Linked DNA regions of Homo sapiens. The protein of the gene in region 1 interacts with the protein of each later gene in a pairwise test. Each region holds a gene or a part of one and is shown on either strand. Other genes may lie near its edges.

Region 1 (7,606 bases):
GTCAATGTCAAGGAACCTTTTTTTTCATGCTGGTTGCTCTCGTATACTTATTGGTTCAATTTATCTCTTGAATTTTTCTCACTTTTCATACTTTTATCTACTTTAGTCTTTTACCAGTTATGCTTCCTACCCCCTCTACCCCTGCAACTTCATAGTTGATTGTGACAGGATTTGGATATCTTCTGGTCAAGAGGAAGTCATCCCAGGTTCAGGTCTCTAAATTGGTTCATCTGTGATGAACATTTATTTCCTTTGTTATCACAGAAGGCGTAAAGACAGACATGAAGCAAGTGGGTTTGCAAGGAGACCAGATCCAGATTCTGATGAAGATGAAGATTATGAGCGAGAGAGGAGGAAAAGAAGTAAGGCATGAACAAATATGTCTTAAACATATATAAATACTGGAAGTGCAATTCCACTATGTGCTTTTTCTTTTCAGTTTGATAAATAGTTCATTTGACATTGATTTGGGTAATTTTCTTTCTGGAATCCCAGCAATACACATTTGCGTCACAGTTTTAATTTATATTGGGTTTTCATATGTATTTTCCTTTGAGCTTCACAACCACTTTCTAACATTTATTTATTGGATACTTTGGGACTAGCTTAAAATCTATTCCTGCACTGTCTTTACCTGCAGCACAGTCCAGTTGGCCGATGCTGAATCCACTCTGTTGTTTCTCTTAGGGGGGAAGCATAGTTAACATTGAGTGTGTCTGTTTTGGGCATTGTGACACATTTCATATCCGCTATCTTAGTTAATCCCCAAATGTTTGGTTTTTATTAACTTCTTTTGGAATTCAGTATATAGGTTGAATATTTGTAGGTCTCATTTTTCCAGCTTATAAATTGACTGCCCTTTTTAATAAGGAGGCATGCTTTCCATACTAAGGACATTTGTTTTTTTTTCTTAAACACCAGCAGGAACTAGATAGCTTTGAATGAGAAGACTTTGTTTGACCTTGTAGCTCATGATAGGGAGGTAGTGGCATGCCCATCATATGTATAGTTGTTGACAGATTGATGTTCTTATTTTAATGTGATTAGTAGCAGATTTCCAGTAATCACCCTGAATTTTTTTAACTGAACTTATTAGAGCTAATCTGCTTTTCAGAATCAGTAATCACTCTAGGTCCTAGTGACAAGGTTAGTAAAATGATCATGGAAGTATTTCAAAGGAAATAGAAGAAGGTTTTACTCAGGTTCATATTTCTCCTTGAGGATTTTATATCATCCAGTCCTGTTAATCAAAATGCATGGACACTGGCTTTAGAATAATTTCTAGAATAATTCTTTAGAAGAATGAATTTATTTATTTTTGAGATGGAATCACTCTGTTGCCCAGGCAGGAGTGCAGTGGTGCAATCTCGGCTCACCACAACCTGCAACCTCCTGGGTTCTAGCAATTCTCTTGCCTCGGCCTCCAGAGTAGCTGGGATTACAGGTGTGCGCTACCACGCCCATCTAATTTTTACATTTTTAGTAGAGACAGGGTTTCACCATGTTTGCCAGGCTGGTCTCAAACTCCTGACGTCAAGTGATCCACCCACCTCAGCCTCCCAAAGTCCTGGGATTACAGGTATGAGCCACTGCACCCGGCCTCTTTTTTTTTTTTTTTTTTTTTGGAGACACTCTTGCTCTGTTGCCCAGGCTGGAGTGCAGTGGCGCCATCTCGGCTCACTGCAACCTCCATCTCCTAGTTTCAAATGATTCTTCTGCCTCAGCCTCCCAAGTAGCTGGGATTACAGGTGTGTGCCACCATGCCCAGCTGATTTTTGCATTTTTAGTAGAGATGGGGTTTCACCATGTTGATCAGGCTGGTCTCAAACTCCTAGCCTCAAGTGATTTGCCTGCCTCAGCCTCTCAAAGTGCTGGGATTACAGGAGTGAACCACTGCGTCCAGCCAGAATAATTTCTTTTGTCAAACATTTTGTGCTGATGCAGCATGACTTTGTAATCAATTTTTAAAGTTTTACATTTTGTTTTTATTTCATTGTTGATTAAGCCATAATACATATGTATTATGTAATATTATGTATACGTAATCCATATATGTTAGGACTTATGCCTAATGCAAAATTCCTTGTGGTCTCCACTGATGTTCTCCTTCCAGTTGTCGGATACCAGATAAAAAGATCTGTCTTATCTCTTTTGGTTTGTTTGTGTTCACCATTCGTTGTCCAGGAAATACACCAGGAATAGTGACAACACGCAGCAGTTTCTTCAGGAGCCAGAAGGACCCACGCTTTCAAATATGTGTTTAGTTCCAGTGGTTTGCACACTGGAAAAGGAGCGTGCTGTGTGGTGGGGGAGATATGGCAACGCAGGGAGCTGGGTTTACTCCCTTTCTGTTGATTCACTCCCCTCTGATCATTCTCTTATTTGTAAACTGGATGCAGTAATATCTACTTCAGAGGTCTGTGAAGCCTGAACGAGGCCATGTGTATAAAGGGCCTAATGGGTATTGCTCTCGGTAAATAGTTACATTACTCTCTTTTTAAGTAACTGCTGGTTCTCTTGGTTGTATTGTTTTGCCTTAAAATTCATTTGCAGACTACATTGTGGGGCTCTTGAGTTCCTTTTATGAAGGAACAATTTTGCATATCTGAGGGAGTGTTGCCACTTTTCTACATTTTAAATCCTAGCATCAGAGGTTTGTTCATATGTAGCAGGAGGTCATCTGAAGTAGCAGGTCCTCCTTTTTTAGTTTTTTCTTAGGGGGGTGGGTGATAGATATATGGTGTGTCATAGTCGTTTGGGAGTCTGGCATCGGAAACCTCCTTTAATGCTTGGATTTGTGGTTTTGCAGGTATGGGCGGAGCTGCCATTGCCCCACCCACTTCTCTGGTAGAGAAAGACAAAGAGTGTAAGTAGATCTGTTTCTTCCTCTTTTATTCTGATACAGGTCTTTAACCCAACCATGGGGGATCTCAGCTTGGGCCCCCAGGTTTCCTGAGCGTAGAGGGAAACGGCCTGCAAGCCTGCCTGGCTCTGTCACCTGAGGCCGCACCTGGATCTCAGAATGCAGCGCCCTCCTGCAGAGAGAGACCTTTCTACGCCAGGCTCTGAGGCTTGGATTTCATGCAGTGGGATCCATCTCTTTTTTATGCAATTCACTTTGATTTCATTAACATTTCTTATTTGTTGTTAGATTCATTTGGAGTTAAAACAGCAGATCGTTACAGTTTTTTAACTCAGAGGTTTAGAGGCTGTTATATTCATGATCCTCCACAAGGTGGCAATGCCTTCCTTGATTAGATTTTTTCTTCCCGTTCCATTTCACTGCAGGTGGGTTTGCGTGTCATTGCGTTGCCAAAACACCCTCACCCACTGTTCCTTCTCGCAGTGATCTGCTCTAGAATTTGGGGGTTGGGACTGGACTTCTGAATATCATCTAGGTCATTTTCCCATTCTCTGGATTGGACCATACTTAAACTATCCCAAGCAGATATTCTCATTTATAGTACTTTTTAAAACTTGTTGAATTCTTTATCTTTTAAAGAAGATAATTTCTAAGATATTATGAAATACCTATTATGTGAAAACAACAGACAAACAATAAACCCCAATTGAAACTAGTCTCTGGGAGTGGGGCTCAGGCATCTGGATGGTCTTAAAGCGTCCTACTGACTTTCATCTAACTAGGGTTGAAGCCACCGCTCCAGTGCGTAGCCCCTAACCTCGGACACCTTTGTGGGCCATGAGCTGATGAGATAGTGAGGTCGGGGTCTAGACAGGTGCACCCAAGTTACTGCAGGAGTCAAAAGATGGCCAGATTGTATCTCCTTAGAACATACAGAACATCTTTCCGGCAAGAATATTCATTCAAGAAGATTTTAAAGGGTGAATAACATTTCAGTAAGATATAAAAAAGACGTTTGAGGAGATAGAAATAGCAAAAGGAAAGTTAGAATCAGGAAAGTAGCGTCCTCCCTCTGTGGTTTTAAAAAAAGTCGTATAAAGGCTGTAAAATTGATTTGGTGTTTTTCTCTCCTTGTGGTAAACCAAAAAGTAGGTTAAATTTGTTCAAGATAAATAATTGATACAAGTGAGGTTTCAGAGTGTTTTCTATAGTATTTTGGTGAGCCTACTTTATTTTTCTCCAATAGTACCCCGAGATTTTCCTTATGAAGAGGACTCAAGACCTCGATCACAGTCTTCCAAAGCAGCCATTCCTCCCCCAGTGTACGAGGAACAAGACAGACCGAGATCTCCAACCGGACCTAGCAACTCCTTCCTCGCTAACATGGGGTAATGATTTAATGTTCTTATCTAAGGACTTGAGAGACAGTGTGAAGCGTTGATAGCCCTTTCAATAGATGCAGCTTGTTTGAAACTGAGGACATTCAGGACCCTTGGTGTGTGCAGGTCACACGGTACCTGCCTCAATCGTGTGGAGCGTGTTCCAGTGTAATGATGGGGCTTGTTCAAAACAGCAACCTCCCAGTAGAAGTTTTGACTCATTTTGATGTTGAACATTATTTTCCTAGACAGGCACAGAACCTGATTAATGTTTACATTTGCCTTCATAACGTTTGCAAATAAAATAGCTCATATGAATCAGAGCTGACTTACTGTCTCCAAAGGGCAGGTGATACCTTTTTTTTCCTGATAAAGTGGGCCATTTGCTTTCAGGTCATGGTTCTAAACCTTTGGTCTAAAAAACTCGGGGTCATTCTAACTACAAGTTGACATGTTTGCCAGCATATAAAATTTGACTGTAAGGCTGACGCTCAGGTGGGGCTTGGGGATTTTTTTAAACTGTGCTGGGCTTGGCAAACATTTTGGTTAAGAGGATATTCTGTGTTGTTGACTTTGATCCTGTGAGACGGCTGTCCCATGAAGCAGTATCACATGAAGGCTTTGTTCTGTGCTGTGTTGCATCTGCTGGCTGCTGCCTGTAGCAGAAATGCAGCCGGTGAGACAGTGAGTGGGGTTGAAACTCACTAGTCTCCTTTCAAGTGCTCAGTGACCACATGCAAGTGGTGACGATGTTGGATGGTGCAGACATAGGACATGGCCGTGGCTGCAGGAAGCTTTGTGTACTGGAGGGTTGGACAGACATGAAGCTGGTTTTGTTTTGTTTTGTTTTGTTTTCCCTGTTTATGATAAAAACTGACTTTTTAGCGAATTTGCTTTTAACCAGGAATTACATCTTTAACTTGTGCTTAGGAAAGATGCAAGATGGTACCATTCAGCAGTTTCTGGTCTTTTTAGCCCTAGAATAGCTTGTTCAAATGAAAATGTTAAGGGAATTAAATACAAGAAGTAATGTAGGTGCAGTTCCAGTTGAAGCGGGATTTTGTGGCTTAAGCCCTAAGCAGCAGTGGTCATGGGGTTGGGGTGCCCTTCAGACCCATGCTGCGCCTCAGAGCGCAGTGTGAGAGCCATTTGGTTGTTACAGAAAGCAGTGACTGAGAGTTGTGGGGTCCAGTTTCAGCTCTACCATTAACAGCTGTACAAATAATTTATTTGTTTTCTGAGATGGAGTCTCGCTCTGTCGCCCAGGCTGGAGTGCAGTGGTGCGATCTCGCCTCACTGCAACCTCTGCCTCCCAGGTTCAAGCAGTTCTCCTGCCTCAGCCTGCCAAGTAGCTGGGACTACAGGTGCACACCATCATGCCCAGCTAATTTTTACATTTTTAGTAGAGATGAGGTTTCACCATGTTGGCCAGGCTGGTCTTGAACTCCTGACCTCAGGTGATCCACCCGCCTCGGCTTCCCAAAGTGCTGGGATTATAAGTGTGATCAACTGCACCCAGCCTGTACAAATAATTTCTAATATGGCGTCTTGCATTACTTCTAAGTCCACCCCTTAAGCTAGTCAGCTAATCTTGGCCTCCGTTTATTTCTCATTTGTTAAATAGGTGATCTCTAAGGGTTCTTTCATTTGTATAGTCTGTCATTGGAAACTCTCCTGTGCTATTTAGGAAAATGGGATCATCTTCATTGTACGAAACTTCATACTTACTTTTTGATAGCCACTTTTTAATAAACTGTGGTCATAAGCTATGTGGCAGTGCAGGTCCGGAGCACACAAAAGGTCTTGTGTTTCCTAGCAGGGCACTGAGGAGACTCCACCAGAGAAACTGACATTTCCCCTCCAAGACAACAGGATGTTCTGGATTTTATTCATAGCTTTTTCTATTTCTTTCATGCTGCACATCCCCACAGCTTCCATCTAATAGCCCACTCCTAGTTAATGAGTGACTTTGTTGAAGCCCCTGTGGAGCATGCACTCTCTCCAGAAGGAGGTTGTTGTGATGGAAAAATGCAACCTATCTCCAGTTGACGATGTCAAGGCTAAGAGTCCTTTCCCTTCTTCTCCTGCCAGGGGCACGGTGGCGCACAAGATCATGCAGAAGTACGGCTTCCGGGAGGGCCAGGGTCTGGGGAAGCATGAGCAGGGCCTGAGCACTGCCTTGTCAGTGGAGAAGACCAGCAAGCGTGGCGGCAAGATCATCGTGGGCGACGCCACAGAGAAAGGTGTGTCCCCAGGGAAGCGTGTGACTAGAGGGAAAGGACTGGCCCCATCCATATCAGACATGGCCAGTCTTGATCCTCATGTGTCAGCAGGGGGACAATGAGGCGTGTGGCCAGAGGGAGAGGGCTGGCCCTGCCATCACTAGAACACAGGCCGTCCTGTTCATATGATGCACTGCCACTTCCGTTTTGTGAAACCAGGAATCCTGAGGCTCATCTTTATTTTTTCAGAACAGACGTAGAGAGATGAAGGCTTGTGGAGGAAAAGATGGTGAGAGACTTGGGCAGAAAATGAGTAGTCCTCAGGAAGAAATCTTGGTTATGTGTTTAGAGCATGAAGGACAGAGCCATATAGTGTGGCAGTGAATATACCTGCTATCTCCATCTCAGAGGTCGTCTCTACTTTTCCCTTTTGCCCTTTCAGTATAGATGTGATTTCTGATTCTCTTACAGATTGTTTGCTTTGCGAGATCTGATGTTATGTTGCAGTCTCTTGGTAAATGATGCCTAGTTGGTGTTTTATTTTCATTTAATTTTTACAGTCTGTTCTGTGTTGAGGGAATTCAGGAAAGAGACAAACATATGTTAGCATTTTAATCAGGGAATTAAGTTTGAGTCAGCCTAGCTGAACTTCCTTTGCTAAAGAAAGAAGAAAACTTTTCTGGCAGCCCCGTTCATGCACAGCTTAGGATACATCACGAGCCTGACAGGTGAGTGCCAGAAACCAACAGTTGTCCCGACTTGTGAGGTTATCTGAAGTAAGGCAGCCGGTGGCTGGATTAGTAACTGCATATTCCCCTGGGCCCGTGACCTTGAACGTTTGCTCCAAGTCAACTCACCTATAGGAATTATCACTCACATGCCCTGTCAGCCCTTTGGGAAGTGAGATGAGCAAAAATTGCAAGTAATGGTGGAGGCTCAAAACATCCAGATGCTATTGTAAAAACATGCCAAAGCAAAGCAGAGGCTTTTATTGCAGATAAGGCTGTGTTTTCGCTCAGAGACCAATTGTGTAGATGCCTAGGACATAAATGGTGGGGATCGCTATTGAAATTAAATTAATTATTGTAAGTAGGACTCAGTTCTGTAACACATCTAATGATATGCTGCTCAGTTCTGTAACA
Region 2 (7,606 bases), on another chromosome or scaffold:
GAAAAATTCTGAACTCAAAAACACCGTGGGCCCCAAGAGTTTCAGGTAAGGGGTCATGGAACCTGTGCTAACCCCTTTCTGTAGATAAGAAAACAAAATCTCCGAGGCCGTAAACTCAAGAACCTACCCAAGCTCACATGGACAGTGAGTGAATGTACAGCAGAGACGGGATTCAGCACCAGGCAGGTCCAACTCCAGAACCTGCATCACAGTTAGATGTGGCTTGTGGGACTGCCATGCCTTTCCATTAAAATGGAAATTAATACAACCACATTTAAATTATACTTTTTTTAGAGACAGGATTTGCTCTGTAGCCCAGGCTGGAGAGCAGAGACGCAATCATAGCTCACTGCAGCTTCAAACTCGTGGGCTCAAGAAATTCTTCCACTTCAGCCTGCCAGGTAGCTGGGACTTAATTTTTATTTTCAGTAGAGAGAGGGGTCTCACTATATTGCTCAGACTGGTCTTGAATTCCTGGCCTCAAGTGACTACATTGGCCTCCAAATGGACTGGGGTTACAGGCCTAGGCCACCAGGCCTGGCCTTAAGTGATGCTTTTAGCTAATTGAGATAAGTCACTGATATGGTTTGGCTGTGTCTCCACCCAAATCTCATCTTGAATTGTAGCTCCCATCATCCCCACGTGTCGTGGGAGGGACCTGGTGGGAGGTAATTGAATTATGGGGGTAGCTTTTTCCCATGCTGTTCTTGTGATAGAGAATAACTCTCAGGAGATCTGATGGTTTTATAAAGGGCAGTTCCCCTGCACACTCTCTCTCTTGCCTGCCACCACGTAAGATGTGCCTTTGCTCCTCCTTTGCTTTCTGCCATGATTGTGAGGCCTCCCCAGCCATGTGGAACTGTGAATCCATTAAACCTCTTTGTCTTTATAAATTACCCAGTCTCGGGTATTTCTTATAGCAGCGTGAGAATAGACTAATACAGTCACTGAGCATGCTAAATGAATGAGCTCACTGTTCTTAAGATGTCTGTAAACAGCCATGACCCACTCACCCGGTCCCTGCTTTCTTCCCGGCTGTCCATTTCTCGAATCTTCTCCAAAATGGTGTCCTCAGTGGACCCAGTCATGCTCAATCTGCCCCTAAGGAGGGCTGCGATTTTCTCCCTAAATGAGAAGTACTGGCTTTGTGAGGTTGTGACTGCATCCTGACTGGCCTTCAAACTCTTCTCCAACTCAGAAGAGCTTTTCTTCAGGAGGCTCACTTCCTGCTTTGAGGCATCCCAGACCTGCTGGCCAGCAAGCAGCCTTTCTTGGAAGATCTTAACTTCCCTTTCAAGAGCTTCTTTTGCTTCTACAGCACTGAGCAGGTCCTAAAATGATTACAGAAAGTGAAGACAATACCATTAGAAGTCAACAGGGTACACCTGCATTTGCTATGGCAAATTCATTGACTTTGCCTGCTAATGACTACAAGGGGTTGGGTTAATTACTCCTTCCATTTTTAACTCCAAGTTCCCTATAGTCTCCTCATAAAGTTATTAAATCCCAATGGTATGTCAGGAAAATTTAGGTGTCTTAAAAACAGAAAATGGGGCCAGGCGTGGTGGCTCACACCTGTAATCCCAGCATTTTGGAGGCTGAGGTGGGTGGATCACTAAGGTCAGGAGTTCAAGACCAGCCTGGCCAACATGGTGAAACCCCACCTCTACTAAACAAAAATACAAAACTTAGCGGGGCATAGTGGCGCACACCTGTAATCCCAGCTACTCGGGAGCCTGAGGCAGGAGAATTGCTTGAACCTGGGAGGTGGAGGTTGCAGTGAACTGAGATCACTCCACTGTACTCCAGCCTGGGCAACAGAACAAGACTCCATCAAAAAAAAAAAAAAAAAAAACACAGAGAAGGGATATAAAATATAAAATCTGGGTTAGAAAAAAGAAGGAAACTTTGACACATAAGCCTTTTCTGTGTGGAATACTGGAAAGAGTTAATAAAAACAAATCATTGGATAACATATTAGTAGATTCAGTCCATATGTAGAATATGTTTATAGAACTATCTTTCTCAAGCTTGGTGTATACGGAAATTTATTTTTAATAAACAGTAAGCTCTCAGAGTCCTAGCTAGGCACTAACAATTATTTGAATAAAGATGCCCCCTCAATGCTATTTTGAATAATAGAGGAATATTCTCATAAAAACATCATTGCATAAAACTATTCATTGACTTCCAATATCCAATATTCATTGCATATCCCCTTGTCTCATAAAGACAACGCAGAAAGAACCTGAAGAAAGGAAACAGAAACAACTAGCCATTTGGTAGGTGGGAGGATTAAAAGTAGAGGGAAAGTATCATACTTAGAAGAATAATCTTAAAGAATATAATATGGGCTGGGCACAGTGGCTCACTCCTGTAATCCCAGCTCTTTGGGAGATCGAGACAAAAGATTGCTTGAGCCCAGGAGTTGGAGACCAGCCTGGGCAACTTGGTAAACCCCCATCTTATATAAAATAAAATAATTTGCCATGCATGGTAGCATGTGCTATGGTCCCAGCTACTTGGGAGGCTGAGATAGGAGGATTGCTTGAGCCTAGGAATTCAAAGCTACAGTGAGCAGTAATTGCATCAGTGCACTCCAGACTTGGTGACACAGCATGACCTTGTCTCAAAATAACAACATAAGAACATAACATGTGAAATTAGGTTCAGAAAAATAATGAAGGACATAAAGAAGGTTACCTGTGTACTTAATTCTATTTACCATAATCTAGAATGGCCCACAGAGGCACCAAAGGAGGATTTTTTTTTCTCCCGGGACGGAGTTTCACTCTTATTGCCCAGGCTGGAGTACAATGGCACAATCTCAGCTCACCATGACCTCCGCCTACTGGGTTCAAGTGATTCTCCTGCCTCAGCCTCCCGAGTAGATGGGATTACAGGCAAGTGCCACCACGCCCAGCTAATTTTGTATTTTTAGTAGAGACAGGGTTTCTCCATGTTGGTCAGGCTGGTCTTGAACTCCCAACTTCAGGTGATCTACCCGCTTCGGCCTCCCAAAGTGCTGGGATTACAGGCATGAGCATCTTTAAAATTGATTTTTAAAATTATTTTTTAACATCAAGTTCCAAAATACATGAATTCACATTAAGAAATATTAAGCGGCGTGTTAACTAGCATGGCTGTAGTATTGCTACCTAGTTAACTGGTAAAAAAAAAAAATTATTAAAAATAGTATGTTAGAGGTAAAAAGCACTAAAAAGAAACACAATATTTTTAAATAACAGACTCTACATCTAAATGAGCTGATAACATTTCAGGCTGCCAGTTAAAATGCAGTCACCTCTTTTGCATTAGAACTGGGCTTTAAAAGAAATTTCTCTCCATTAACAGCTTGGAAACAGGAAAAAGGATAGCCTGAAACACTAGTTCCTATTTTTTATAGGAAACATAACATCTTATTTTTTCCATTATGGTGACTTTTTTAAAATCAAGGAAGTCTCAGGCATCAATTTGAAAGAAAAGTCACAGAGTAGATATGTAGTTAGAGAAGCCTGCCCTTTTCAGAGATGTAATAACTCAACTAATTATGGAATCTATTTTGTAAAATGCCTTTTGCTTTTCAAGGTCTTGGTTTCCCCTTTCCTTTGCTAAACTAGTCATGTCTGTAGAGAAGCCCCACTGTTGCTGCTAATTAAATGACGGTCCTTAAAAGTAGAGTCAAGGACACTTTATCACAAATTCAATATTTTAACAGTTTACAGATTTCTCTTCAGATCATAATACAATATCTTCTCACTTGCTCAATTAGAGTAACTAGTATCAGTAAAGGTGATAATAAATTGGGGCATATTTTACTTGGAAACTACGGTCGTTCCTTGGTATCCTTGGGGAATTGGTTCTAGGACCCCGGAAGATATGAAAACCTGAGGATGCTCAAGTCTCCCATATAAAATGGAATAATATTCTCATATAAGCTACACATATTCTTCTGTATACTTTAAATCATCTCTAGATTACTTATAATACCAAATACACTGTAAATGCTAGATAAATAACTGTTATCATGTGTTGTTTTTATTTGTATTATTTTTATTGTTGTTTTGTTATTTGTATTGGCTTTTTTCCATATTTTTTTATCTATAGTTGGTTGAATCCACAGATGTGGAACTTGTGGATGCAGAGGGTCGACTGCACAGTCTGATGTGTGGTTAGAAAATTGAGGTCCTAAATTCAATGATGCTGGGATGGAAATTAATCCTAATCACTTTAGAATTCTAAAACCATATGGAATATTATATATTCACTAAAGACCCTCAAAATACACAAAATATATCTCAGATGCTTGTGACTTATGGAGTTACTGTCAATTTGGAGTAGACAACTCAACTGGCAGCCAACACCACAAGACCAATAAACACAATTAAAATATTTCAACTATGAGGAATTTTTCTACCCCAATATCATACTAATGTTTCACTGACTTCAAGAAAAGGGCCAAAACAATCCTCTCTAACAAATCCAAAGAACGTTTTCTTTTTAAACCTAGGCATCAACATTTATGTCTAGTGAAAATCACAAAATCAGTTTGTGTTCATAGAATACAATGGTGTCTGTGAGCAAGTTGGGTTTCTCTTTTTCAGGCACATTCAGCTCAGTGAACCCTAAGCTGTTTCTTGTATAAAATGCAGGACTCGAGAGCCAGAGTGACAAGGCCTTGGGGATGGTCGCTCCCTTAGTGCTCTGATTAAGTGCTGCAGGATTCAGGGGCACAGGGCTGATCTTCTGGAAATAAATGTCCTCAGACTGCAAATGCAATTACTTGTTCACCTATCAGGAGAAAGCCATCAGAGTGGATTCTGGTTCCATGGCTACCTCAAGGATACGCCGAAGCAAGCGGCATAAAATAATGTGACATCAGTACCACTGGCCAGGACCTGGGGATTGCTGTCAGACCACACTGACATACAGGACAAGAAACATAAAGCTTCCTGTGAGCAAAACCAAGACTGACCTCCACAGAGGAAATCACAGAGGGCAGGCCCTATAGACTGTGATGGGGATCACTTAAAAAATTTTTTTATAATTAATAAGTCTTTAGGTTCAGTCTGACTGAAGCGACAAATGTAAAATGATTCTTTCAAAATTACTTTTAACAAAAACTTTAATAAACAATATGATTATGGCATTCAATTTAGCTTCCCATTTAAATGCACGAGTCTGCATTAAGTAATGAAACCATCCAAAGGTTTGCGTTTTAAAAACACAATTGATTCCTGTTCTGTTGCTATTTTATGGATTTAGATACACATGAGATCAAATTGCCACTCAAAAGTACAATGATTATCATCAGGACAGAGAACCTGTGGCTTGAGCTTAATTCCTTCAATCCTAGATCAATTTTATAAAATAAAAAAATCAGTTGGTTAATTCTACCTACTGCAGTTATGATTAACAAAAAAACTCAGAAATTCCCCCAAACAGGTAGTCTCATACATTGCTGGTGGCAATGTGAACAGGTATAATTTTGGTATAAATTGTTGGCATAAATACATAACAAAACTTAATATGCACTTATCTTTTGGCCCTGAAGTTCCAGTCCTGAGGATATATCTATAAGATAGGTTACTAAATATAGAAAATGAGGAATATGTAGTTATCCAATTATAATATAGCAAAAGACAACATACTACATGAATATTCTTTGATATGTAACTTCTTAAACAAATATGAGACATCCATACTATAGAATATGATGTAGTCTTGAAATGAAATGGGGAAGTTCTTTATATACCAATATGAATGATTCTCCAAGATACAGTTAGTGAAGAAAGTAAGGTGTTTAATAGTGCATCTATACAAATAACAATGGTACATAGTATAGTACCATTTGTACCTTTATGAAAAGAATATCTCTAGAAACATGCACAAGCAACTGCCAATTCTCATCACCTCTAGAGAAGGGAATTGTAGCCAGGGGTTAGGAATGAAAGGAAGATGTGATAGAATAGTGGCAACTATGAAAACACCGGGGAATTTTAGTCCATTTAAAGTGTTGAGTCAACAGTGATATGAGCACAAATATACACATGCACATGCACACACCCATTCCCCCCTTCCCAAACTTGGGCTGCATTCACAAAAGTAAAGTATTTAGAATGAGAGAGGTGATGTCCTGCTCTATTTCCTTCGAATTACACCAAGCCTGAAGTTTGGCATTCAGTTCTGTGATTCAAACTTTAATACAGACAAAACCCTCCTTGGACAGCACTATTCAAACTTACATTCTGGTACCACTCCTGCACCTGCTGTTCACAGTCCCAACAAGATCATTTCAGAAATTGAGGGTAAGATATTAGCAATTTCTATAGCAAGTTGACACTGATGCAACATCCAAATACCATAGACTCCCTTTTTTTTTTTTTTTTTTTTTTTTTTCAGAGTCTCACTCTGTCGCCCAGGCTGGAGTGCAGTGGCATGATTTCAGCTCACTGCAACCTCCGCCTCCCGGGTTCAAGCGATTCTCCTGCCTCAGCCTACCGAGTAGCTGGGGTACAGGTGCGTGCCACCATGCCCAGCTAATTTTTGTATTTTTAGTAGAGATAGGGTTTCACCGTGTTGGTCAGGCTGGTCTTGAACTCCTGACCTTGTGACCCGCCTGCCTGCCTCGGCCTCCCAAAGTGCTGGGATTACAGGTGTGAGCCACCGCGCCCAGCCTATACTCCATTTTTGAATGAAGTATGTACCTATTCACTCTTTGTTAGACTTGTGTGGTAAGTGGCTAGTGGTGAGAGTTGCTATCTGTTGTACACTGAAGGAACAGGCTACAGATGTGATATTTTAAGGCTGGTTTGCCAACTATAATCTAAATAAGTATATAAAATCCAGAACCCATTTCTTTCCTCAAAAGAATTTCATCATATTTAAACATAACTATACCTTTACAAAATAAACTAATAGAACTGTTGACAGATGAAGGATTGAAGATGGATTTTGAAAACACATTTGTTTCAGACGGGTATGGTGGCTCACACCTGTAATTCCAGCACTTTGGGAGGCCAAGGCAGGTGGATTACTTGAGCTCAGGAGTTTGAGACCAACCTGGGCAACATGGTGAAACCCTGTCTCTATCAAATATTTTTAAGAAAAAATAAACAGAAAAAAAAGGAAAGCTGAAATTACAATTGTTTAATTTGAATACAAGGTACCTACAAATATATTGAGCTTGTTGAAATTGCTTTAAAATCTATTCTCAACAAACCTCTGTTAGATTTGTTTTCTACTGTAAGTATCTGAAAAGCAAAACATAAAAACAGTTTCACAGGGGTCAGGCACGGTGACTCACGCCTGTAATCCCAGCACTTTGAGAGGCCGAGGCAGGCTGATCACCTGAGGTCCGGAGTTCAAGATCAGCCTGACCAACATGGAGAAACCCCGTCTCTACTGAAAATACAAATTAGTTGGGTGTGGTGGTGCATGCCTGTAATCCTAGCTACTGGGGAAGCTGAGGCAGGAGAATCACTTGAACCCAGGAGGCAGAAGTTGCAGTGAGCTGAGATCGCACCATTGCACTCCAGCCTGGGCAACAAGAGCGAAACTCAGTCTCAAAAAAAAGAAAAAATTTCCTATACAACAGGCACTGAAA
Region 3 (7,606 bases), on another chromosome or scaffold:
GGACATTTTTTATGGATGGTATTATATAACGTGGTCTTTTGTATCTGGCTTCATTACTTAGCATAATGCTTCAAGGTGCATCTTTGTTGTGGCATGAATCAGTACTTCATTCCTTTTTGTGGTTGAATAATACTCCATTTTATGGACATACCATATATTGTTTATCCATGCATTACTTAGTAGATGGACATTTGGATTGTTTCCACTTTTCTGCTGTTAGAAATAATGCTGCTGTAAACATTCATGTGTGGGCTTTTTTTGTGTGAACTTATGTTTTCAGTTCTCTTGGATACATGTATATACACACACCGAGAAGTGGAATTGCTGGGTCACATGGTAACTATGTTTAGCCTTTTGAGAAACTGCCAGTTTTTCCAAAGTGGTTGTATCACTTTACAGTTCCACCAGTAATGTATGAGGGTTCCAGTTTTCTCACGTCGTACACTAACACTTTGAGACCAGCCTGACCAACATGGAGAAACCCCGTCTCTACTAAAAATACAAAATTAGCCGGGCATGGTGGTGCATGCCTGTAATCCCAGCTACTCGGGAGGCTGAGGCAGGAGAATCGCTTGAACTCGGGAGGCAGAGGTTGTGGTGAGCCAAGATCACAGCATTGCACTCCAGCCTGGGCAACAAGAGCGAAACTCCATCTCAAAAACAAACAAACAAACAAACAAAACTATTTTGTTTGAAAAGTTTATTTTAGTCATTTTAGTGTGTGTGAAGTTGTACTTCATTGTGGTTTTGATTTGCATGTACTTGATTATATTGAGCATCTTTTCATGTGTTTATTGTCCATTTATAAGTTTCTTTTGGAGAAATGTCTGTTCAGATACTTGGCCCACTTTTTAATTGGGTTATTTGTATTTTTGTTGTTGAATCGTAAGAGTATTTTACATCTTCTTGAGTCAAGGTTCTTATCAGCTATATGATTTGGAAATGTTTTCTGTTCTCTGGGTTGTCTTTGCATTTTCTTGATGGAAGCATGGAGGTTTTAAACTTTAATGGAGTCCAATTTATCAGTTTTTTTCTTTTGTTTACGCTTTTGGTGTCATATCTAAGAAACCATCACCTAATTCAAGATTATGAATATTCATTCCTGTGGTTTTCTCCCAAAAGTGTTATAGTTTTAGCTCTTACTTTTATGTCCATGAACCATTTTGAGTTAATTTTTGTACATTTAGTATATGGTGTAAAGTAGAAGTCCAACTTCATTTTTCTGTATGTAGATATTCAGTTGTCCAAGCACCATTTGTTGAAAAGATTATTCTTCCCTATTAAATTATGTTGGCACTTCTAAAAGAAGGATTCCAAAAGTAGATTAAGAAGCAGTTTTAAAAGAGGATTCCAAAGATGTTACTTACTGTTCCAGTAACTCATGTCCTCCAGAGGTGATTTTTGAAGAGTGCGTATTTTTGGCAGTTACTTTCCATGGCAGTTCAGTTACTTCATGTTCATTAATTTCCCTGACTACTGGTTGTCATTTTAATTGTTTAATTGTAGTAATAATTTAATTGTTTGTTATTTTGAAGGAAGGGGAAGGGAGGTTCAATGATAAGAAAAGCATTCTTCCTTTTTAATTTAAATAATTAGAACATACAATTTGTACTGAAATGATGTAAAAAGGCTCTTATTATTGAATCATTGGTTTTGCTTATCCTTTTGTTTGAAGTATAACTTGTCATATCCTTTATAGCCACTTAAAAAAGGAGAGAAAGAAAAGAAAAAAAGCAATTTGGAACTCTTCAAAGAAGAATTAAAGCAGTAAGTTTTATAGTGTGGAGAATAACTATCATAGGTGTATTGAGCTGATACATAAACAGATGCAAGTATAAAGAATATACTGTACCAGTTAGTTATTACTAACCAGTTTGCTATGAGATTGTTTTAGATATTATAATATTTGGTGGGCTATCTTTGAAAATAAATTAGCATTTAGTCCAGCACCTGGGTTGCTTGCATTACGAGGATTCAGTTCAATTGATTTACTTAATGTCCAGAGTCCTGTTTGCAGTGGAAACAGTATACTCACTGGGATGGGAGTGAGGGGCAGTTAGACTTAGCAAGAAACAAATTCAGTGGTTTTAGTGTTTAATTTCCTCCTCACCTTTAAAGTAGGCTTTGTGTTCCATTGGTAGTATGATATATCAGAAATTTGCTCGTGGTTGTATTATAGCTGAGGGACCCTCTAATCTTGGTTATCAGTACCAGTATTTAATTACAGATATTTCTAGTTATTTGATGATAGTAATTTGATAAGCGCTATTCTGAAATGTGAATGAACAAATTTTGGCTCATTATAAGTGATTGTAAATATTTTCAACAGAATTCAAGAGGAACGTGATGAGAGACATAAAACAAAAGGCAGATTAAGTCGATTTGAACCTCCTCAGTCAGATTCTGATGGTCAGCGTCGTTCTAGTAAGTGGCATTTATTTTAATGTGTATGCTTGTGATTAATTACAGTAGTTCCCACCTTATCCGTGGCGGGTTACATTCCAAGGATCACCAGTGGATGTCTGAAACCATGGATATATACTATCCTTTTCCTTACACATTCATAGCTGTGGTAAAAATTAATTTGTAAATTAGGCACAGTAAGAGATTAACAACAATAAGTAATAGAACAATTATAACAATATACTGAAATAAAAGTTATGTGCAATCCCAACACTTTGGGAGGCCGAGGCAAGTGGATTACCTAAGGTCAGGAGTTCGAGACCAGCCTGGCCAACATGATGAAACCCTGTCTGTACTAAAAATACAAAATTAGCCGGGCGTGGTGGTGCGTGCCTGTAATCCCAGCTACTCAGGAGGCTGAGGCAGAAGGATTGCTTGAACCTGAGAGGCAGAGGTTGCAGTGAGCCGAGAACGTGCCATTGCACTCCAGCCTGGGCGACAGAGCAAGAGTCTGTCTCAAAAAACAACAACAACAACAACAGAGTTGTGTGAAGTGGTCTCTCTTTTTGTCTCTCAGAAATACCTTACTGTAACAAACTGGGGGAAACAAAGGTGAGGGTAAGGGGGGACTACTGTATTATAAAAACTAATAATTGTCTTCTTTTCTCCCCTTTAAGTGGACGCGCCTTCAAGAAGAAATAGATCATCTGGTGGTAATACAGTTTTTTGCTCTTTTAATCGATAAATTTTCCAAACTTTATGTTTTGCAGGTTATAATTCTTTTTTTCTTTCTGCCCTAGTTCTTGATGATTACGCACCTGGCTCACATGATGTAGGAGATCCAAGCACTACTAATTTATACCTTGGAAACATTAATCCACAGGTAATATTAAGTAAGATGAATGTTGATTGATATGCTTTATGCTTTTGGAAGAAAGCTTTGTTAGTCAAAAAAAATCAAGATTCTGAAGCTGACAAATCTGATGGAATTGGATAGTCTTTAGAGTTGTCTTACTGGTATGGCCCAGGTTGTCTTGCCACATATTCTTGTTTCCTCTTTCAGTAACTAGATTGAACTCTGGATTTGAAATGTTTTACTAGGTGCTGATTTTATTATTAAATCAGGGTGTGACCATTGATGAATAATATTATTTTGAGACTGTCCACTTCTGATGCATACTTGTTTCCTTGTGGAGTCCCTTTTTCTTCTCATAGTAGTAAACTACTCTTTGTGGTTTGTCTTTTATATTTTAATTCTTTTCCTGCATTGGTGCTGTTAATTATGATATGGGGAATGTAGTAACGGTAGTATATAATATGCTATTATTAAAAATTATATTTTGCATATATACTGTTACCTGTTTTCTCTGCATTTGATTACATGGGTAGTTGATTGTTAGAACAGATGATTAGATACTTTTTTTCTTCATTGTCAATACATATTTCCTCTTTAATTTAAATGTACTAACCATGCCTGCTTGAAAAATGTTACTAAATGCCTAAACAAACCATCACTATAAAACATCTTACTTAGATCCAGGACCTTAAAACAAAGGAAGATAGAGAGTAAAAATGATTTTGATTTCTTCATCCACTGAACTTCCCCACCCTGGCATCTTAAATAAACCAGAATATTTATAGTATGAAATGATTTATGAATGCCCCACGCGGGATTTTACTTGTGTGGCGTTCCTGGTACTTAAATGGAAAATTGAAGCACGTTGCTATGTTGCTTTTTATTTTGTAAAAACTACTTTGTTTTCTGAAAATAATTTTTTCTTTTCCCTTTTTTGCATAATAAAAATCTTTTACCCTTTTTAATAGATGAATGAAGAAATGCTGTGCCAAGAATTTGGAAGATTTGGACCGTTAGCCAGTGTGAAAATCATGTGGCCTAGAACTGATGAAGAAAGAGCCAGAGAGAGAAATTGCGGCTTTGTGGCCTTTATGAATAGAAGAGATGCTGAAAGAGCTTTAAAAAATTTGAATGGTAAGAACATTTTTATTATCCATTTATACAATTCAGATATTTCTTTGGTTTGGAAAAGTATTTATAAAAACTAGGAAGGATTGGACCTGAAATGGAGAGGTTAAAATGAAAATTATTTCAACTCACCAGAAAAATTTTGTTTGGAAACTTTTGAGAGTTAACAAAATGACCTTTCATTTCTTTCTTGTAGGAAAAATGATTATGTCTTTTGAAATGAAGTTAGGTTGGGGTAAAGCTGTACCTATTCCTCCACATCCAATATACATTCCGCCTTCTATGATGGAACATACGCTTCCCCCACCTCCATCCGGACTGCCTTTTAATGCGCAGCCTAGAGAGCGGTTAAAAAACCCTAATGCTCCTATGTTACCGCCACCTAAAAACAAAGAGGATTTTGAGAAGGTAATTTAAAAAATGGACATAAGGCCGCATCTAATTTGTAAATACTAAAGCTGTGGTAGTATTTCTTTTCAACAATTTTATAGAAAATGTGTGTGTAATTCTGTTTGGCAACTTTTAAAGAAATAAGTAGATGTGTTCCCTGCCTTAGCCCATGGAAACCCTATATTTGAAATACTAGGTCATATTTTTATTTGTGGCTACCATTCCTTTTTTGACCACTTGTTAAGTTTTTTTTCCTTTGTCCAGTGTTGTATCCAGATTTGCTTAAGTGTATTAACTAAATTTACTTTGTTCTGAGAAAGTGATACTTTGTATTTGGTTAAGTGACATTTCAATTAGAAAGACCTCCTAAGTAGTTATTGTTTGGATGGCAGCTAGATCTGAGGTATTAGAATATTTGAGAAGATTTATGTGGTTTGTAAAAAATAGTTAATCTAGTAAAAGCAAAGGGTGAGTATTTTCTTTTTAGTAAATAAAACCAACTTAATTTCAAGTTATAAGAATTCGTTGGTTCTATTATGAATTAATTACACTTAAAATGACAGGGCTGGTTTTAAAGGCTTGGGAACAAAGTAGCGAACTGTATGGTCAGAGGCAAACAGTTAATTATTTCACAAATTAAAATCTTTATCTGATAATTCTCAGTGTAGTACCTATTTCAGTGCATTGATGTGCATTCTGGCAGGAATGTTCTGATTCTTTGCATTTGGTGAACGTTTATTGTTCACTGAACACATCCATTTGCATTTATGTAATTGCTTAGTGTATAATGACTTCAAATGCAGTGATTGCCTGCAAAACTTGTGATTAGATATGTAGTATTTTCAATGCATATGTATATTTTTGCTTGTTACTTGTTAACAATACTCACATATTCTATGTTTATTATCTGATGTGACTTCATATACAGACTCTGTCGCAAGCCATAGTCAAAGTGGTTATCCCAACAGAAAGGTACATGTTTTTCTTTATTATTACTGATCTAAATATAGACAATATCCCCTTCTGAATTTAAAAAGAAATGGTGTTGAGGAAAAGGTAGTATCTTGACTGAGCAATGGTTCCTTCCCAGTACTTTTTGCGGGGGGATGTGTGAAATTTAACTAACTTTTGTATACTTTGCAATTTTATGTCAGTATCTTTTTTTGTTTTTATTGTTATCACTGTAGGGAATGTTTATAGTTTGACTAGTTAGAGTGTATTTATTAGCTCTGATTTGGAGTCAGACAATAGACTATTGTCATGGGAAAATAGATGTTTTAAGTGTGTCGTAAATTTCAGATAACGTTACAGTTTGACCCAATCTGTTGTTATTTTTTTCTTGTTTTCTGAATTATCTGCATTTAATATATAACCTTGGTTTGAGTTCTCCTTACTGAAGGCATAGCTTTGTTTTTTGTTTTTTCAATTGATTTTAAGAAGAAATTCCTATTATTGTCATGAACACTGGACATACTAGAAACTTTCTTTTCATGGTAACAAAGGTATTTGGAATTCTTTTATTTTCCTTTCTTCCTTTTTTTCTCTTTCAACACACTATTAAAGCAGAAGAATTCATGCTGTAGGTATGCTCTTGCTCAGTCAAGCTAAGCCTTTTCCCAAACACAGGAACACAACACTGGTTGAATAATAAATGAACACAAAAGAATACCAAATTCTCTTTGACATTGGCCTTGGTGAGCAACACCAGCTGAACTGTCTGCGGCAGCGGGGGACCAGGAAAACATCATGGGATGGATTGGGAAAGTATACAGTTTTTGACCAGACATTGGTACGATCGACTCCAATAAATGTGGTTTTATTATAACTGAGAGACAATTTTTTGTTTTTGTTTTTTTTTTGGTTATTGTTGCCCAGAATAAGATAATTACCATTTTAAAATTAAATAATGCACTTTAAATATATCATCTTTTTGTACTACACTGTTTTATTCTAATAGAAAAGTCACCATTTTTAAAATAAACACAATCCTTAAGGAAGAAGAATGTGATTACAGTTCTTTAGTAATCTTGACATCAAGTTAATAACAATTAATTGTCAGATTTTGATTTTAAATAATCATGAAACATTTTAAAAATACTTATAAACTTTTAATTTTCTAAAAATAGATTTATCAGTTACAAGCCTGTTTAAAACTATAGTGGGTTTTTCACCACTGATAAAAGCATTCACAGGATAGTATTTTTGTAGCATTCAAAAAAAGCACATATCTAGTGGTAGCTTTACATGTATGTGGCTCAGCTTATTTCTAAACAAAATTTTGAGTGTGCGTTTTGCCGAAAGTCTTCACTCACCATTAGGATGAATCCTTTGTTTTTAAACTTGCTAAACAATTTTCCTCTATCTTAAATGCTAAAGTCAAGTTGCTTTTGACTTAATTCACACAAGTTTCTGGATGTATAACATTTGTCCACCTAGTAATTAGTCTTATACATAAAATTTCCCTTAGCTTTAATTTGGCTCCTATCAGTGGGGAGTTTTGGAATTGAATCATAACTTTACATTATCGCCCTTCCTTCAAAATAATGTCATTAACCATATGAATGCTGAAGAACTGCATATTTGCAGAGCAATTACTTCTGTGAAAGAGAAATAATTTTTAAATAGAAAATTAAGCAATGTTTTTAGTTTTTTGTTTTGACAATTTGAGGTTGAATTAGTAGTTTTAAATGCATGATTTCCCCTTTGTAAAGATTTAAACTGTGATGCAATTTTTTTTACTTCCTTTAGGCTTAAATTTTTTTCACTATGGAGAGATTTCATTTTAAGTAGGTTTGTTTGAAAGCTATGAGAAAATAATTATAGTCACCT
Region 4 (8,570 bases), on another chromosome or scaffold:
AGATTGTGATTAAAGAGTAAGTATAAGATAAAAGGTAACCTGGGAGGCCAGGCATGGTGGCTCACACCTGTCATCCCAGCACTTCGGGAGGCCAAGGCAGGTGGATCACAAGGTCAGGAGTTCGAGAACAGCCTGGCCAACATGGTGAAACCCCGTCTCTACTAAAAATACAAAACTTAGCCAGGCACAGTGGCATGCACCTGTAATCCCAGCTACTTCAGAGGCTGAAGCAGGAGAATCACTTGAACCCGAGAGATGGAGATTGCAGTGAGCCGAGATCACGCAACTGCACTCCAGCCTGGGCGACAGAGTGAGACTCTGTCTCAAAAAAAAAAAAAAAAAACCAGGCGCAGTGGCTCACGCCTGTAATCCCAGTGCTTTGGGAGGCCGAGGTGGGTGGCTCACGTGAGGTCAGGAGTTCAAGACCAGCCTGGCCAACATGGTGAAACTCTGTCTCTACTAAAAATACAAAAATTAGCCAGGTATGATGGCAGGTGCCTGTAATCCCAGCTACTTAGGAGGCTGAGGCGGGAGAATCTCTTGAACCCAGTAGGCAAAGGTTGCAGTGAGCTGAGATCATACCATTGCACACCAGCCTGGGTGACTGAGCGAAACTCAGTTCAAAAAAAAAAAAAAAAGATAAAAGGAAACTCTATGTGGTACTTTAGGGCTGAGGGAGTATCCCCAAAAAAGGGGCAAATTTGGAGAGCATTCAGACTTCCTTGGAGAAAGTATGGTCCCGCCTAACAAGTTAACGGAGATAATTGCTGGATCGGCCAAGCCAGAGCTGGTCTGGAGTTGCAAAACAAGCAAAAGGCCCACCCTCCAGGGTGCAGATGTGGGAACAGGTTATCAACAGTTGGTGCTCTGGATGTGCACTGGAAACCTAAGTGTTGCTGGGGCAGGAGGCCTTCAATGTGTATGGGCCACCGTGGGGGCTCTGTTCGTTTATTATCATTTATTTATTTATGATTTTTGAGACAGAGTCTCACTCTGTCCCCCAGGCTGGAGTGCAGCGGCACTCAGCATCTTGGCTCACTGCAACCTCCGCCTCCTGGGTTCAAGCGATTCTCCTGCCTCAGCCTCCCGAGTAGCTGGGATTACAGGCATGAATCCCACCACACCCAGCTAATTTTGTTTGTTTTGTTTTGTTTTGTTTTTGGAGGGACGGGGTTTCACCATGTTGGCCAGGCTGGTCTCAAACTCCTGATCTCAGGTGATTCGCCTGCCTCGGCCTCCCAAAGTGCTGGGATTACAGGCGTGAGCCACCGCGCCTGGCCTTTTTTTTTTTCTCTCTCTCTTTTGAGTTTTGTTCTTGTCGCCCAGGCTGGAGTGCAGTGGCGCGATCTCCTTTCACTGCAACCTCTACCTCTCGGTTTCCAGCGATTCTCCTACCTCAGCCTCCTGAGCAGCTGGGATTACAGGCACCTGCCACCACGCCTAGCAAATTTTTGTATTTTTAGTACAGATGGGGTTTCATCATATTGGTCAGGCTGGTCTCAAATTCCTGACCACAGGTGATCCACCCACCTTGGCCTCCCAAAGTGCTGGGATTACAGGCATGAGCCACCGCGCCCGGCCTTAGGGGCTCTGTTTTTTGTGTGTGTTGAGAGGGCTGCAGAAAGGTTTTCACCAGGTCAAGACTGCAAAGTCACAGGACCACGTTCTGGATCCAGGGCTCGGGCAGGCTTCACCTGGTGTCTTCACACCTCTATCCCTAATGCCTCACCAGCGCCCTCTATTGAGAAATCTTAGCATTGTGCTCACTTTTTTTTTTTTTTTGAGACGGAGTCTCGTTCTGTCTCCCAGGCTGGAGTGCACTGGCACCATCTCGGCTCACTGCAAGCTCTGCCTCCCGGGTTCACGCCATTCTCCTGCCTCAGCCTCCTGAGTAGCTGGGACTACAGGCGCCTGCCACCACGCCCAGTTAATATTTTGTATTTTTAGTAGAGACGGGGTTTCACTATGCTAGCCAGGATGGTCTCCATCTCCTGACCTCGTGATTCGCCCACCTCGGCCTCCCAAAGTGCTGGGATTACAGGCGTGAGCCACCGCGCCTGGCCGAGCATTGTGCTCACTTTAAACAAGACATAACGAAAGAAATTCCTTTGTTTATCACATATTGAAAGGGTCCATTCGGAGACAAGAGGCAATGCATGGATAATTGACACACATATATTTATTATTTTTATTTTTTTGAGATGGACGGAATCTTGCTCTGTTGCCCAGGCTGAAGTGCAGTGGCACGATCTTGGCTCACTGCAACCTCCGCCTCCCAGGTTCAAAGTGATTCTCCTGTCTCAGCCTCCCGAGTAGCTGGGATTACAGGCACTTGCCACCACACTTGGCTAACTTTTGTATTTTTAGTAGAGTTGGGGTTTCGCCATGTTGGCCAGACTGGTCTCGAACCCCTGACCTCAAGTGATCCGCCCGCCTCGGCCTCCCAAAGTGCTGGGATTACAGGCATGAGTCACCATGCCCGGCCTAATTATTATTATTATTCTCTTTGAGACGGAATTTCACTTTTGTTGCCCAGGCTGGAGTGCAATGGCGCCATCTTGGCTCACTGCAACCTCTGCCTCCAGGTTCAAGCGATTCTCCTGCCTCAGCCTCCCAAATAGCTAGGATTACAGGCATGCGCCACCACACCTAATTTCGTATTTTTAGTGGAAATGGGGTTTCTCCATGTTGGTCAGGCTGGTCTTGAACTCCTGATCACAGGTGATCTGCCCGCCTTGGCTTCCCAAAGTGCTGGCGTTACAGGCGTGAGCCACCTTGCCCGGCCTAATTTTTGAATTTTTAGTAGAGATGGGGTTTGACCATATGGGTCAGGCTGGTCTCGAACTCCTGAGGCAGGAAAATCACTTGAACCCGGGAGACAGCAGCTCTGGGAGCTGAATGGGCCCATTCCAGGGGCTGAGGTTTCATCAACCAAACGGTGCAGCTCTTTAGAGGAACTCAACCAGAAGGGGTGAGAAACGGGATTGTGGGGGATGAGAAGAAGGAACAGGGGCCCCCTGGACACAGAAGCCAAGCGACTGGCTCGGTAATTTTGAGTAAACCCCTCTGAGCCTCAATTTCCCTATCTGTCACAAGACATAAGATCACCATCCTCAGGTTGCCAAAGAGACACAACAGGCTCAGCTGGGCGCAGTGGCTCCTGCCCGTAATCCAAGCACTTTGGGGGACCAAGGTGGGAGGATCGCTGCAGCCCAAGAGTTTGAAAACAGCCTGGGCAACATGTCTCTATTTATTTAAAAAAATAATAATAAAGAGACATAACAGGCTCTCCATGATGTCCCCCATCACAGGTGAACAAATCCACCATCAAGGCTTTAGAGGTCCCTAGAGCCCCTGCTGTGAGGGGCCAAGGAGCTGACCCATCATTTGCAGTCACCCAGAAGGCCCAGAAGGGCTCTAAAGGCACTGGGGGCCAGAGGAGAACGACAGGGTCCCCCACGAACCCTCGCAAACAAGTCCTCCACCAGCCCCACTCACCCGCCCCTGAAGCCACCAGCCCCACTCACCCGCCCCCAAAGCCACCAGCCCCACTCACCTGCCCCTGAAGCTAAACCTAGCAGTCTGAACGGCCAGTCTTGGAGCCCTGGTGCCGCAGCAGCTTTGTGACTCAAAGCCAAGTTCTGGCCAATCCCTGGCAGCTCTTAGGGGGTGGGGATTCTAGAAGGCACAGCCAGAGGTTGGGGAACAGGATGCAGGGCAGGGCCAAAGGTCATGGTGGTTGCTACCTACACCGGCTCATCCTGAGTACAAAGGGTTCTCAGCACAGAGGGAACCCCAAATCTCCCCCTCCATGTACCTAGAGGCAGTTTCAGTCTTTCATCCCACGGGCATTTTCTGAGCACCTACTATATGCTGGAATTTGCCCCATGTCTGGGGATACAAACAACTCAAAGAATTTGAGGCTGTAAAATGGCTAGATGGGAAGGGACCAAAAAGGGGGTGCAACGGGCCAGTCAGGGTTCTCACTGATGTCTTGGGTGTGGCTCTGAGACTGCGGGCTCCTTGGGGTGGGGCCGGACTTGATCTCTTGGGATCCCCACTGGGCCCGGCAAAAGTGGGTACTGACCCTGAGCCGCAGCGCTATAAGGGGAAGTCAGGCTGCTGTCCTGGATCACCTCCTGGGGCTGGGCTGGGGCCCAGCATGAGTCACCGCTGGCTGGGCCAAGGCTGACACGCACCTTGGACTCAGTGCAGCTGGCTCCAGCCAAAGCCAGCCTGGCCCAGAAGCCTCTGCCTGGCTTCCTTGGGGAGCCGCTGGGGGTTGCCGGGACAAGAACCAGCAGGGGTGCCTGACCTCCCTCTGCAGCGATCACCCCCTCCAAAACCTTCCCTATACTGTGGGTGTGACTTTGGACAAAATCAGGGACATGGCAGATGGCAGTTGGGTGGGGTTTATATCCTTTGTCTGTTTTTTGAGATTGAGTCTCGCTCTGTTGCCCAGGCTGGAGTGCAGTGCTACGATCTCAGCTCACTGCAACCTCCACCTCCCCGGGTTCAAGCGATTCTCGTGCCTCAGCCTCCTGAGTAGCTGGGACTACAGGTGCATGCTATGACGCCCAGCTGATTTATGTAGTTTTAGTAGAGATAGGATTTCACCATGTTGGCCAGGCTGGTCTCAAACTCCTGACCACAAGTGATCCGCCTGCTGCGGCCTCCCAAAGTGCTGGGATTACAGGCATGAGCCACTGCACCCAGCTCATCCTTTGGATGTTTCATCAGAACAGGTCCCTTCTGTGCTGTCAACGAGCTAAACACAAACTGGGAGTTCTCAGGGCAATTGGAGACCGTAGGAGCCCAGTAAGGTGCTGGCCTAGCCTGAGGGTTACTAGGGACAGGCTTCCGAGGACTGTGCAGCTGAGGCTGGGAGGTGGCGCTCAGCTGCATGACTGGGGGAAGAGTAGCTGGCACAGAACTACAGCTGCAGCCGTGCAAAGACCCTGAGGCCAGGAAGGCAGGATATTGGGAATTTGGGTGGAGAGGCTCCTGAAAGGAGACACTGGCCAGCCCAGGGACTGGTGCAGTCAGGACTTTTTCCAAAAAGGTTTCAAGTAAGGAGTCAGATCTGTGATTTAGAAAAAGCCCTTCACATCACAGCTCATGCCTGCTTGACTCCCCCATCAGACTGGAGGGCTGGCCTCAACTAGGTGTCAATAAATGCTGGGGACGCTGGGCGCGATGGTTCATGCCTATAATCCCAGCACTTTGGGAGGCCAAGGCGGGCAGATCGATTGAGCCCAGGAGTTTGAGACCAGCCTGACCAATATGGCAAAACCTCGTCTCTACTAATAATACAAAAATTAGTCAGGCATGATGGCAAATGCCTGTAATCCCAGCTACTTTGGTGGCTGAGGCAGGAGAGTCACTTGAACCCAGGAGGTGGAGGCTACAGTGAGCCAAGATTGCACCACTGCACTCCAGCCTGAATGAGAGACCCTGACTCAAAAAAAAAAAAAAAAAAAAAAAAAAAAAAGAGGCCGAGTACAGTGGCTCAATACCTGTAGTCCCAGCATTTTGGGAGACCGAGGTTGGAGGATCACTTGAACACAGGAGTTCAAAACCAGCCTGGGCAACATAGATCCCATCTCTACAAAAAAATTATTTAAAAATTAGTAGGGCGGCTGGGCGTGGTGGCTCACGCCTGTAATCCCAGCACTTTGGGAGGCCAAGGCTGGCGGATCATGAGGTCAGGTGATCGAGATCAACCTGGCTAACACGGTGAAAGCCCATCTCTATTAAAAACACAAAAAAATTAGCCAGGCATGGTGGCAGGCGCCTGTAGTCCCAGCTACTCAGGAGGCTGAGGCAGGAGAATGGCGTGAACCTGGGAGGCGGAGCTTGCAATGAGCCGAGATGGCGCCACTGCACTCCAGCCTGGGCGGCAGAGCAAGACTCCGTCTCAAAGAAAAAATAAAAATAAAAATTAGTAGGGCATGGTGGCGTGCACCTGTGGTCCCAGCTACTTGGGAGGCTGAGGTGAGGCAGGACAATCAGTTGAGCCTAGGAGGTCAAGGCTGCAGTGAGCTGTGGTCTTGCCACTGCACTCTGGCCAAGGCAAGAGCGAGACCTCATCTTGTAAAGAAAAAAAAAAACAAACTTGTGGGGCCCAGTGGCTCACGCCTGTAATCCCAGCACTTTGGGAAGCCAAGGTGGGTGGATCACCTGAGGTCAGGAGTTCGAGACCAGCCTGGGCAACATGGTGAAACCCTGTCTCTACTAAAAATACAAAAAAAAATTTAGCCAGGCAGGGTGGCTCACGCCTGTAATCCCAGAAACTTTGGGAAGCTGAGGCGGGCAGATCACGAGGTCAGGAGATCGAGACCATCCTGGCTAACACGGTGAAACCCCGTCTCTACTAAAAACACAAAAAAATTAGCCGGGCATAGTGGCGGGCGCCTGCAGTCCCAGCTACTCAGGAGGCTGAGGCAGGAGAATGGCATGAACCAGGGAGGCAGAGCTTGCAGTGAGCTGAGATCGCGCCACCGCACTCCAGCCTGGGAGACAGAACGAGACTCCGTCTCAAAAAAAAAAATTTAGCTGGGCATGGTGGCAGACACCTGTAATCCCAGCTAATCAAGAGGCTGAGGCAAGAGAATCGATTGAAACTGGGAGGTGGAGGTTGCGGTAAGCCAAGATCAGGCCATTGCACTCCAGCCTGGGCGACAAGAGGAAGACTCAGTCTCAAAAAAAAAAAAGAAAAACAAAGTACGTCCTCCACCTCTCTGCAGGGCTCCTCAGAGTCCTTTCGCCTTAGACCACTTGGGGGCAGGCAAGCAAGAGACCTGGGTTTGAATCGCTGCTCTGCCATTTAACAGGGGTGTTGGCCGGGCACGGTGGCTCACGCCTGTAATCCCAGCACTTCGGGAGGCCGAGGCGGGCGGATCATGAGGTCAGGGGATCAAGACCATCCTGGCTAACACGGTGAAACCCCATCTCTACTAAAAGTACAAAAAATTAGCCAGGCGTGGTGGCGGGCGCCTGTATTCCCAGCTACTCAGGAGGCTGAGGCAGGAGAATGGCATGAACCCAGGAGGCGAAGCTTGCAGTGAGCCGAGACTGCGCCACTGCACTCCAGCCTGGGAGACAGAGCGAGACTCTGTCTCAAAAAAAAAAAAAAAAAAAAACAGGGGTGTTGGGCAAGTCTCAAAACCTCCCTTCCCCTTCTCTACTAATTGGGGGCCACAGTAGGTACCATCATTGAGTGCGGTCACTGTTGTCCGTCCCCTGAGCACCTCCCAGTTCTGACTTCTGACCTGAGAGATGTTATGCTGGATGCAAACACCCGCATCTCACAGCACAGGATGTAGAGGCCATCGGGGGAGGAGGACTCGCCTGAGATCTCACAAATGCCAACTGGAACCTAAGCTGGGTCCCGGTCTCCCAACCAGTGACACTCTGCCCGAGATGTGGTTCTTGGTCTCTTGTGTGTCAAGACACCCCTGCTCTCCCACCTCAGCCTCAGTTCCCTTCAGCAGGTTCCTTCAGGCCCTGCTGAAACGTCTGCATGACCTCCCACAAGGCAACGTGACAGCTAAAAACCAAACCCTGGCCGGACGTGGGGGCTCACGCCTGTAATCCCAGCACTTTGGGAGGCCGAGGCGGGTGGACCACTTGAGGTCAGGAGTTCCAGACCAGCTTGACCAACATGGTGAAACCCTGTCTCTACTACAAATACAAAAAAGTAGCCGAGCATGGTGGGCACCTGTAATCTGAGCTACTTGGAGGCTGAGGCAGGAGAATCACTTGAGCCCGGGGAGGCAGAGGTTGCAGTGAGCCTAGATGGCGCCACTGCACTCCAGTCTGGGTGACAGAGCGAGACTCTGTCTCAAACAAATGAACCCCAACATAGCTGTTGGTGGCAAGGCCTTTCTCCATGACCAAGGGACGGTGGCCATTCTCTCCAAGTTTCTTCATCTGTAAAATGGGTACAATTCAGTGGCCCTCCCTAACAGGGCTGGCTAGGTACACATGGCCACCAGCCCTACTTGCTGTGTGACCTCGGCCACTAATGTTCACATCCCTCAGGGTCCCCAATGAGTTGGAAGCCCAAAGCGCAGGGTCTTAACAGCAAAGGGCAGAGCAGGCAGGAGAAGCAGGAAGCCTCGGGTCAAAGCTCTGAAAGTGAGGGAGTCCAAGGTCAGACTATCTCTGCACAGTCTCCTTAAAAGGCTGTGTGATGTCAAGCCAGTTGCTCAACCTCTCTGAACCTTAGATTTCCTCAAAGTAGGGAGTAGGATGTTGGGAGGAGGAGGAGAAGCGAACTTCAGGGAGATACTTGGAAAATCCCAGTCCTGGAGGCAGACCTCTTGGGTTAGATCCCACCTGTGCCAACTTCCTCCTGGTACTGGGTCCATCAGCTTGTCCTGGGCCTCAGCATCCCCCGATCCACCAAAAGAGAAAAGCTTACACTGTAAGCCAAGCACTGCTCTGTAAACATAAACTCTCTTAATCGTCACAACTTTATGGGGCAAGTTTTTCGACTGTTCTCCCCATTTTATACGGACAGGCAAACCAAGGACCAAAAGGTTAAAAAGTTTACTAAGTTTCTGTCT

Evidence for each region.
Region 2: the proteins of RBM17 (region 1) and CCDC170 interact in binary tests that used the Homo sapiens proteins (3 or more experiments, as listed by UniProt).
Region 3: the proteins of RBM17 (region 1) and U2SURP interact in binary tests that used the Homo sapiens proteins (3 or more experiments, as listed by UniProt).
Region 4: the proteins of RBM17 (region 1) and IQCN interact in binary tests that used the Homo sapiens proteins (3 or more experiments, as listed by UniProt).

The regions. Positions count from the first base shown.
Region 1 is NC_000010.11:6,105,877-6,113,482, forward strand, and holds part of RBM17 (splicing factor 45), read left to right. Parts: intron 1-264; coding exon 265-362; intron 363-2,809; coding exon 2,810-2,866; intron 2,867-4,109; coding exon 4,110-4,251; intron 4,252-6,333; coding exon 6,334-6,485; intron 6,486-7,606. UniProt on the Homo sapiens protein: Splice factor that binds to the single-stranded 3'AG at the exon/intron border and promotes its utilization in the second catalytic step. Involved in the regulation of alternative splicing and the utilization of cryptic splice sites.
Region 2 is NC_000006.12:151,566,899-151,574,504, reverse strand, and holds part of CCDC170 (coiled-coil domain-containing protein 170), read right to left. Parts: intron 1,332-7,606; coding exon 1,014-1,331; intron 1-1,013. UniProt on the Homo sapiens protein: Plays a role in Golgi-associated microtubules organization and stabilization.
Region 3 is NC_000003.12:143,018,270-143,025,875, forward strand, and holds part of U2SURP (U2 snRNP-associated SURP motif-containing protein), read left to right. Parts: intron 1-1,699; coding exon 1,700-1,767; intron 1,768-2,329; coding exon 2,330-2,424; intron 2,425-3,080; coding exon 3,081-3,116; intron 3,117-3,203; coding exon 3,204-3,286; intron 3,287-4,227; coding exon 4,228-4,393; intron 4,394-4,583; coding exon 4,584-4,795; intron 4,796-5,705; coding exon 5,706-5,749; intron 5,750-6,214; exon of another isoform or gene 6,215-6,279; intron 6,280-7,606.
Region 4 is NC_000019.10:18,270,847-18,279,416, forward strand, and holds the start of IQCN (IQ domain-containing protein N), read right to left. Parts: upstream 3,607-8,570; 5' UTR 3,557-3,606; intron 1-3,556. UniProt on the Homo sapiens protein: Essential for spermiogenesis and fertilization. May be required for manchette assembly in elongating spermatids.